2 linked regions of the Homo sapiens genome follow. The protein of the gene in region 1 purifies or fractionates together with the protein of each later gene. This does not show direct contact. Each region holds a gene or a part of one and is shown on either strand. Other genes may lie near its edges.

Evidence for each region. The genes of interacting proteins can lie anywhere in the genome.
Region 2: the proteins of TFDP2 (region 1) and CYRIB purify together in Homo sapiens (affinity purification with mass spectrometry; one large-scale study listed by BioGRID and IntAct). This does not show direct contact.

The regions. Positions count from the first base shown.
Region 1 is NC_000003.12:141,943,805-141,947,268, reverse strand, and holds the end of TFDP2 (transcription factor Dp-2), read left to right. Parts: 3' UTR 1-2,230; coding exon of another isoform or gene 2,231-2,259; 3' UTR 2,260-2,841; downstream 2,842-3,464. UniProt on the Homo sapiens protein: Can stimulate E2F-dependent transcription.
Region 2 is NC_000008.11:129,842,276-129,845,664, reverse strand, and holds part of CYRIB (CYFIP-related Rac1 interactor B), read left to right. Parts: intron 1-3,389. UniProt on the Homo sapiens protein: Negatively regulates RAC1 signaling and RAC1-driven cytoskeletal remodeling. Regulates chemotaxis, cell migration and epithelial polarization by controlling the polarity, plasticity, duration and extent of protrusions.

The sequences.
Region 1 (3,464 bases):
CCCATATTCATGCACCCAAAGCAATGGTCCCCAAGCACTGATGAAAACTAATATGCATTTCCCAAAGACCCACACTATGTATCAGGAGCCTGCACCATGCCATTTGAATGACCCTCAGCAATGTGCCTCCCTGCCCTCAAATTCCCAGTTGATAACAGTGTTTGATTAAATTTCCACTCAAGCCAAACATGGTTACTAAGAAGAGAAAAACCTGATGTTTGCATAATATTTTTTTTCCCCTCGAGATGGAGTCTTGCTCTGTTGCCCAGGCTGGAGTGCAGTGGCATGATCTCAGCCACTGCAACCTCTGCCTCCCGGGTTCAAGCGATTCTTCTGCCTCAGCCTCCCAAGTAGTTGGGATTACAGACATGTGCCACCACGCCTGGCTAATTTTTGTATTTTTAGTAGAGACAGGGTTTCACCATGTTGACCACACTGGTCTTGAACTTCTAACCATGTGATCTGCCTGCCTCGGCCTCCCAAAGTGCTGGGATTACAGGCTTGAGCCACCACGCCCAGCCTAAGATTTTATGATTAAAAAAAATTCAAGCTCAATACCCACATAAATTATAACGTTTCTCAGGAAGTAGTCCCTTAACCAAAACGTCTCTGAGAAGTGATGCTTAGGTAATCTCTGGGATCCGATTTTCCCACATGTCTCACTCCACAGTATGCTAAAGAAGAAAAAGTGAGTGGGCACAACACTTTGACCCTCTGGCTAAGCCCTGGGAGTCCCTGACAGGTCCAGAAACTTCTCTGACACCCATTCACCAGGGTGCTGAGATAGGAGAAAGTGCTCATTTATAATGTGTATTCTGTGCAGCTGTTCTCAGACAAGACCGGATCTTGTCATCTTACCTTTTGCTTTACAAAAAAGGCCTGTTGAAGTCAATGCTGTCTTGCCCCTTGCTGTTTCAGCAGGTTAGACTTTGGTCTTCACTGCTTATAGCTGCATTGGAGGCCAACGTAGCTGATGCTCAGGGTCAGGCCTCGCCCCTTCGCCGCAGGTCTCAGGATCGGGGATAACATCGCTCCCACCCTGCTCATTTAGAGATGGGAAACAAGCAAGAGCTTGACTTGCCTCCCATCCCTCAGCCTGTCTGTGGCAGAGCCTGCACCAAAACCCAGAGCTTCTTCCCTCCGTGAGGGCCACGCTGTCACCACAGTCCTCCCAGATGGGTTTTGGATTAGCATCAGTCCTGTGTCACCAAGTGCCAAACAGCTGAGGGGTAGAAGTGGGACTCCTTTCCCGAGCCCCAGCATGAGGCTGTGGTGTCAGGTTTAGGCCTCTCTCAAGTCAGAAAACCCCGGGCTGAGACCTCCACAGACAAGGGCTCCCCATGCTGGCCATTGGCAGGGGCCCAAGAAGTTCAGTGACCAACTGGTCCTTCCACACCACACCAGCTGGTGCTGCCCATGTCTGTCGAATCATAACGGAAAATTCCCCAGATCACGTTTGGATTTAAAAACTCATCCCTTGTCGTGCTTCAATGCATGCCATTTGTCACTTACCATACTTCACCATGGCCGAGCTTCATGTCACATGGCCTGGCGATTGTGCTTGTTCACACTGGGGCCAGGATTTTCATACTAAAACGTCACTGACAATGGGGCTACTTTTCTCCTGAATAGCTCCTCTGGGCTTGTTGCAGTTCTAGTTTTCCCAGTAGTTCCATGGCAGGTTCAACCTCTCAGTGTCCTGAAAAATGGAACCACCCACTAACCATATGCACTGGCTGCCCAGGTGGCTGCACTCCGGGGATCACGTTTCAGTACTGAGTTCCTTCACGCACTTGGTTCACCACCATCACTCTTGAGTTTTGGACAAAAGAGGTGGGTATGCCAGGCACAGTGGCTCACGCCTGTGATCCCAGCACTTTGGGAGGCCGAGGCGGGCGGATCACCTGAGGTCGGGAGTTCGAAACCAGCCTGACCAACATGGAGAAACCCTGTCTCTACTAAAAATATAAAATTAGCCGGGTGTGGTGGCGCATGCCTGTAATCCCAGCTACTCGGGAGGCTGAGGCAGGAGAATCTCTTGAACCCAGGAGGCAAAAGTTGCAATGAGCTGAGATCGTGCCATTTGCACTCCAGCCTGGGCAACAAGAGCGAAATTCCATCTCAAAAAAAAAAGGTGGGTAAAGGGCCATGAGCCCAAACCACTAGGTTGTTCACCTTTTCATCTGAAAATGCTTTACTCTGACTATGTGCTATTGGGTTTTATTTCCAGAAAATATAGTTCTCCTTTTTTCTGCATGAAGGATACATCGTGGTGCCACATGCTTTAAGCAATTTAAACAAGAGAGATAAGAGGAAAATGCAACCACCACATCTGACTTGCCCAATGTAGACTTTCCTTTATTAGATTGAAGTACACAACCTAATATGATATATTATTTTGTAGTATCTCAGACTTTGTAAATAAATGCCATTATTTTTATATGGAAATTTTATAGAAGAGCTATTTCTGTATACGTAATTACTCCTGATTTTCTGAAATTGCTTCTGGTAGATAACAGACAAGTCCTAAGCAGTGTTCCACTAAGGGTGGTTCCAGGCCTGCCTGCCGTGGAGTTGACTGGGGGAATTTTACAGTTTTGCGATCCTAGGATGCGTCCCAGACGCTCAGTCAGAAGTGCTGGAGGTGGGGCCTGGGAAGCTGTATTTGTAATGAACTCTGGTGTTTTTTGTCCATTAAAGTGTATCTTTGTCCATCCTATAAGATTAAAGGAAAGAAAAAGCATCTCAAATGAGTGTAAGTTGTTCTTGAGAAAAAAATGTATCAGACTTTTATGATTTGAATGAAATGTATTATAGAAAAAAATAAACACTTTAAAATAATGTTAGTCTCATTACTAGTGGGTCAGGATATTTTTAGTTAAAAAAGGAGGTGTTAGGCCATGCGCAGTGGCTCACGCCTATAACCCCAGCACTTTGGGAGGCCAAGGTGGTCGTATCATTTGAGGTCAGGAGTTCAAGACTAGCCTGGCCAACATGGTGAGATCCCGTCACCACTAAAACTACAAAAATGAGCTGGGTGTGGTGGCATGCGCCTGTAATCCCAGCAACTTGGCGCAGGAGAATCGCTTGAACCTGGGAGGCGGAAGTTGCAGTGAGCTGAGATCACACCACTGCAGTCCAGCCTGGGCAACAGAGTGAGACTCCATCTCAAAAAAAAAAAAAAAAGCCTTTTTTTTGTTTTTGTTTGTGAGATGGAGTCTCTGTTGCCCAGGCTAGAGTGCAGTGGTGCAATCTTGGCTCACTGCAACCCCCACCTCCCAGATTCAAGGGATTCTCCTGCCTCAGCCTCTGGAGTACCTGGGATTACAGGCACGTGCCACCACACCCGGCTTATTTTTGTATTTTTTTTTTTTTTTTTTGAGACGGAGTCTCGCTCTGTCACCCAGGCTGGAGTGCAGTGGCGCAGTCTCGGCTCACTGCAAGCTCCGCCTCCCGGGTTCACG
Region 2 (3,389 bases), on another chromosome or scaffold:
TAAGCGGAACTGTCAAATGATTTTATTAAGATTATGAAAAAATGTTTAAAAATAGTTTTTAAAAGATTATGAAAAGTGTTGCATAAGCGGTAGCTGCCTGAATAAAGGTGATCTATTCTAAATGAACATCAGCAAGATTAAGGAACATAATTTAAAATCCTTATAATGTCAAACTATTTTAACCATAAGCCTAGTTTTTAGAATTCTGTATTCTTGGGGTTTTTACAACGCATACTTCAGTGGTTTTGCCAATATTTAATGATATCATGAGTCTTTCCTCCTTGGTTTCTTTCTGAATACTCCCTGTGTCTCAGTCAACCTGATTTTTCTCCCAAGACTTTGTCTTTCTGATTGGTCAGGCTCTTTGAAGCCAGCAAGTGGCAGGAAATCTTTTTTAAAAACTTGAAGGTAATTGAGATCTAGGAGGTTTTAGGATTCTTTCTTGAGCTTGAAGGTAGTATGCCTAACTCAGAATCTACGTTTCACTTTAAGGGTAGTTCAGTTTCCTTTTCCTTAGAATGAAAGCAGAGGAGACCAGTGATGGCGAGTGAAAGACAGGGTTGAAGTCTCCCACAAAGTAATCTGTGTTTGAGGGAGAGGGGAGGGAAGGAAAGCACCACGGAGGCAAGAGTCACCTGTCAGTTTGGTACATTTTCTTTCCTATTATAATAGATAATGGAAACTAGAAAATAAAATGTTGCTTTTAGAAACAACAAAATCAGGTCTGACTTGGGACTCAGGCACTTTCCTTTTAAACAAACACCCTAGCTGATGTAGATAATGCTGATACTTTGAAAAATATTTCTTAAAGGAAATCCATCTAGCCTTTAATATGTTTTACTGAGAGCACATGTTTAGAAAGCATTTTGTAACCCCAAAAGTACTACACGAGTGTTACACACCTCCACAAAATAGAACTTAAAGACCAAAAGATTTTAAATGAGAGAATAGTTCCATATGTATGTATATGTTTGTTTTGAATGCTTTCCTGTAGTAATTATTTATATAGAACTTCCTGTGCTACTAAGAGAAGGCATCAAGTCATATGTCCATTTTACAGGTGGAAAAATGGAACCAAATACATTTAATCATAAGAGGGAAAGAAAAAAAGAGAGCTGGGAGTTCAGATTCAGTAGTAGATAATTGTCTTCTTTATTAAATTTAAGAGTAAAGGTAAATAATAATTGGTTTTCTTTAGTAAAACAGTCGCACTTGGAAAAAAAATTTGTTTTTGTGCACAAAGGAAAATAATGCCATATATCTTCATGTTTTATTTTCACGTATATTAGATAATATTGGCCTTTTCTTGATAAGTGAGTGTGGTGATGCAGTGTGCTCTGGATTGGCTTTGTCCAAAGAAGGAAGCCAAGATCACATCCCACAGAAGGAGCGAGAACTTGCGTCATGGGTAGAGAGGAAAACACTTAGCACTCTTTGAATAGTACAGTACATTGCTGAGTAGTGATACTTTTAACTACTCTGCAGTAGAAATTTTACTGTGCACATTGCTTGGCTCTTTCTACTATTTAGTTGTATAAAGAAGTGGAGGAGAAACAAATGAAGAATTTTGAGAACTACGAGACATCTGTAGGATTTCGTGTAATTGCGTATACTTTATCTACATAAAGAGAACAAAAAGGTTAAATCCTTGTGACATCACTTAGCATTTAATGTCAATATTCCTTTATGGATTTTTTTTTCTTTCCAACCTGGCTGCTTATCTTGTCTTCCTTCCGCAAGTATTTATTGAGCACCATTTATGTGCCAGGCACGCTGATACCTATTCAAAAACATGAGAACAGTTTGGGAGTGACTTCTCAGTAACATTGTAGACAGTATATCAGGTACTTAATAAGCATTCTTCGGTTTTTAAATTAATTTGAAATGAACCTAATAGGAATTGGGTTTAAATTTCTTAAACACAGAAAGATCTATGTGGACCTGCTGAAAAGGATGTAGTCCTAGCTGGGCATGGTGACACACACCTGTCATCCCAGCTACTTGTGAGCCCAAGGCAGGAGGATTGCTTGAGCCCAGGAATTGAAGGCCAACCGGGGTAATATAGCCAGACCTTATCTCTAGAAAAAACGATCTAGTCCTTAAGATTATATGTGGAATTCTTGTGAACCAGATTTCTCTGTCTGGGTTATCTCCAAAATACAGTCCACATTCACGCATTGAACACCTGTCTCCATTGCTGCTGTAATCTGGCCCAAGCCTTGACATCTGATTATCTCACACTTGGTGCTCAGTAACAGCCCCCTTATTTAATGCCTCCCTGCTGCTCCTTCTGTTCTCCACAGCTTGCCCTCAACAGCCAGAATGATAAAACTTAAGTGGCAGCACACCCCTCTCCTGCTTAATATGCTCCACTGGCTTTTACTGCACTTAAAATAATCTCCAAACTCCTTACTATGTATGGCCTCTGGGTGTCCATGGGAGATGGTGTTTCCCTGTCTCTGTATGTAGCCTCTTCTTGTTATACTTCTCTCCTTTGCTGCTAGGCTTTACCCTGTCACTAATATTAGTGTATCATTATCTTTCTCCGTCTGCTAGGTTGTAAGCTCCTTGAACAGTGCCTGAGACATAGTAAGCTTGCTTAGTGGATTTTTACTGTTTAAGGGAATACTGTTGTGAATCTTTATAATAATCACTCTTTGTGATTCTTTTTTGGATTCTTATGTTGGATTTGCATGCATGTAGCAAAACACATGCCTAGAAATAAGGCACTTGGGAGAATTGAGACATTTTAGAGATATAACAGCTGTAGTAATTGAGGCATCTTAAATACAGAATAGAAAAGGGGTTGAAACACTTTTCTGTAAAGAGCCAGAGAGTAAGTAGATATTAAAGGCCTTGTGGGCCACATGGTTTCTGTTACAGCTCCTCACCTCTGCCACCATAACAAGAAAGTAACCATAGATGATACATGAATGAGTCAACTTGGTGTGTTTCAGTAAAACTTTTATATGTAAGCACTGAAATTTGAATTTCATAGAATTTCCACAATAACACATGAAATATTACTATTTCTTTTTTTGTCTTCCTTTGCCCCCCAGTCATCCAAAAGGTTAAAAAATAGAATTAGCTCACAGTCCACAAAAAAATTGGTGGATTGGATGGCCCATGGGCTATAATTTGCCAGCCTCTGGGATAGAACAGCATTTTCTTCTGAGGGAGAAGTTACAGCTAATTGTTTACTTGAGAGGTCAACCAATCATTTCAGCAGTGTAGTTGTAACTAAGTTAAATAGCTGCTAAATAGCTACTGGCTATTCAGTTAGAAAGGGGGTGAGGATGACAGGCTGTGCAGAACCTGAACAGGGTTAAAGCTACAATGAGAAGCCATAATTTTGTGAGTTTTGCTGAGACCAATTCTCCATCCTGTCA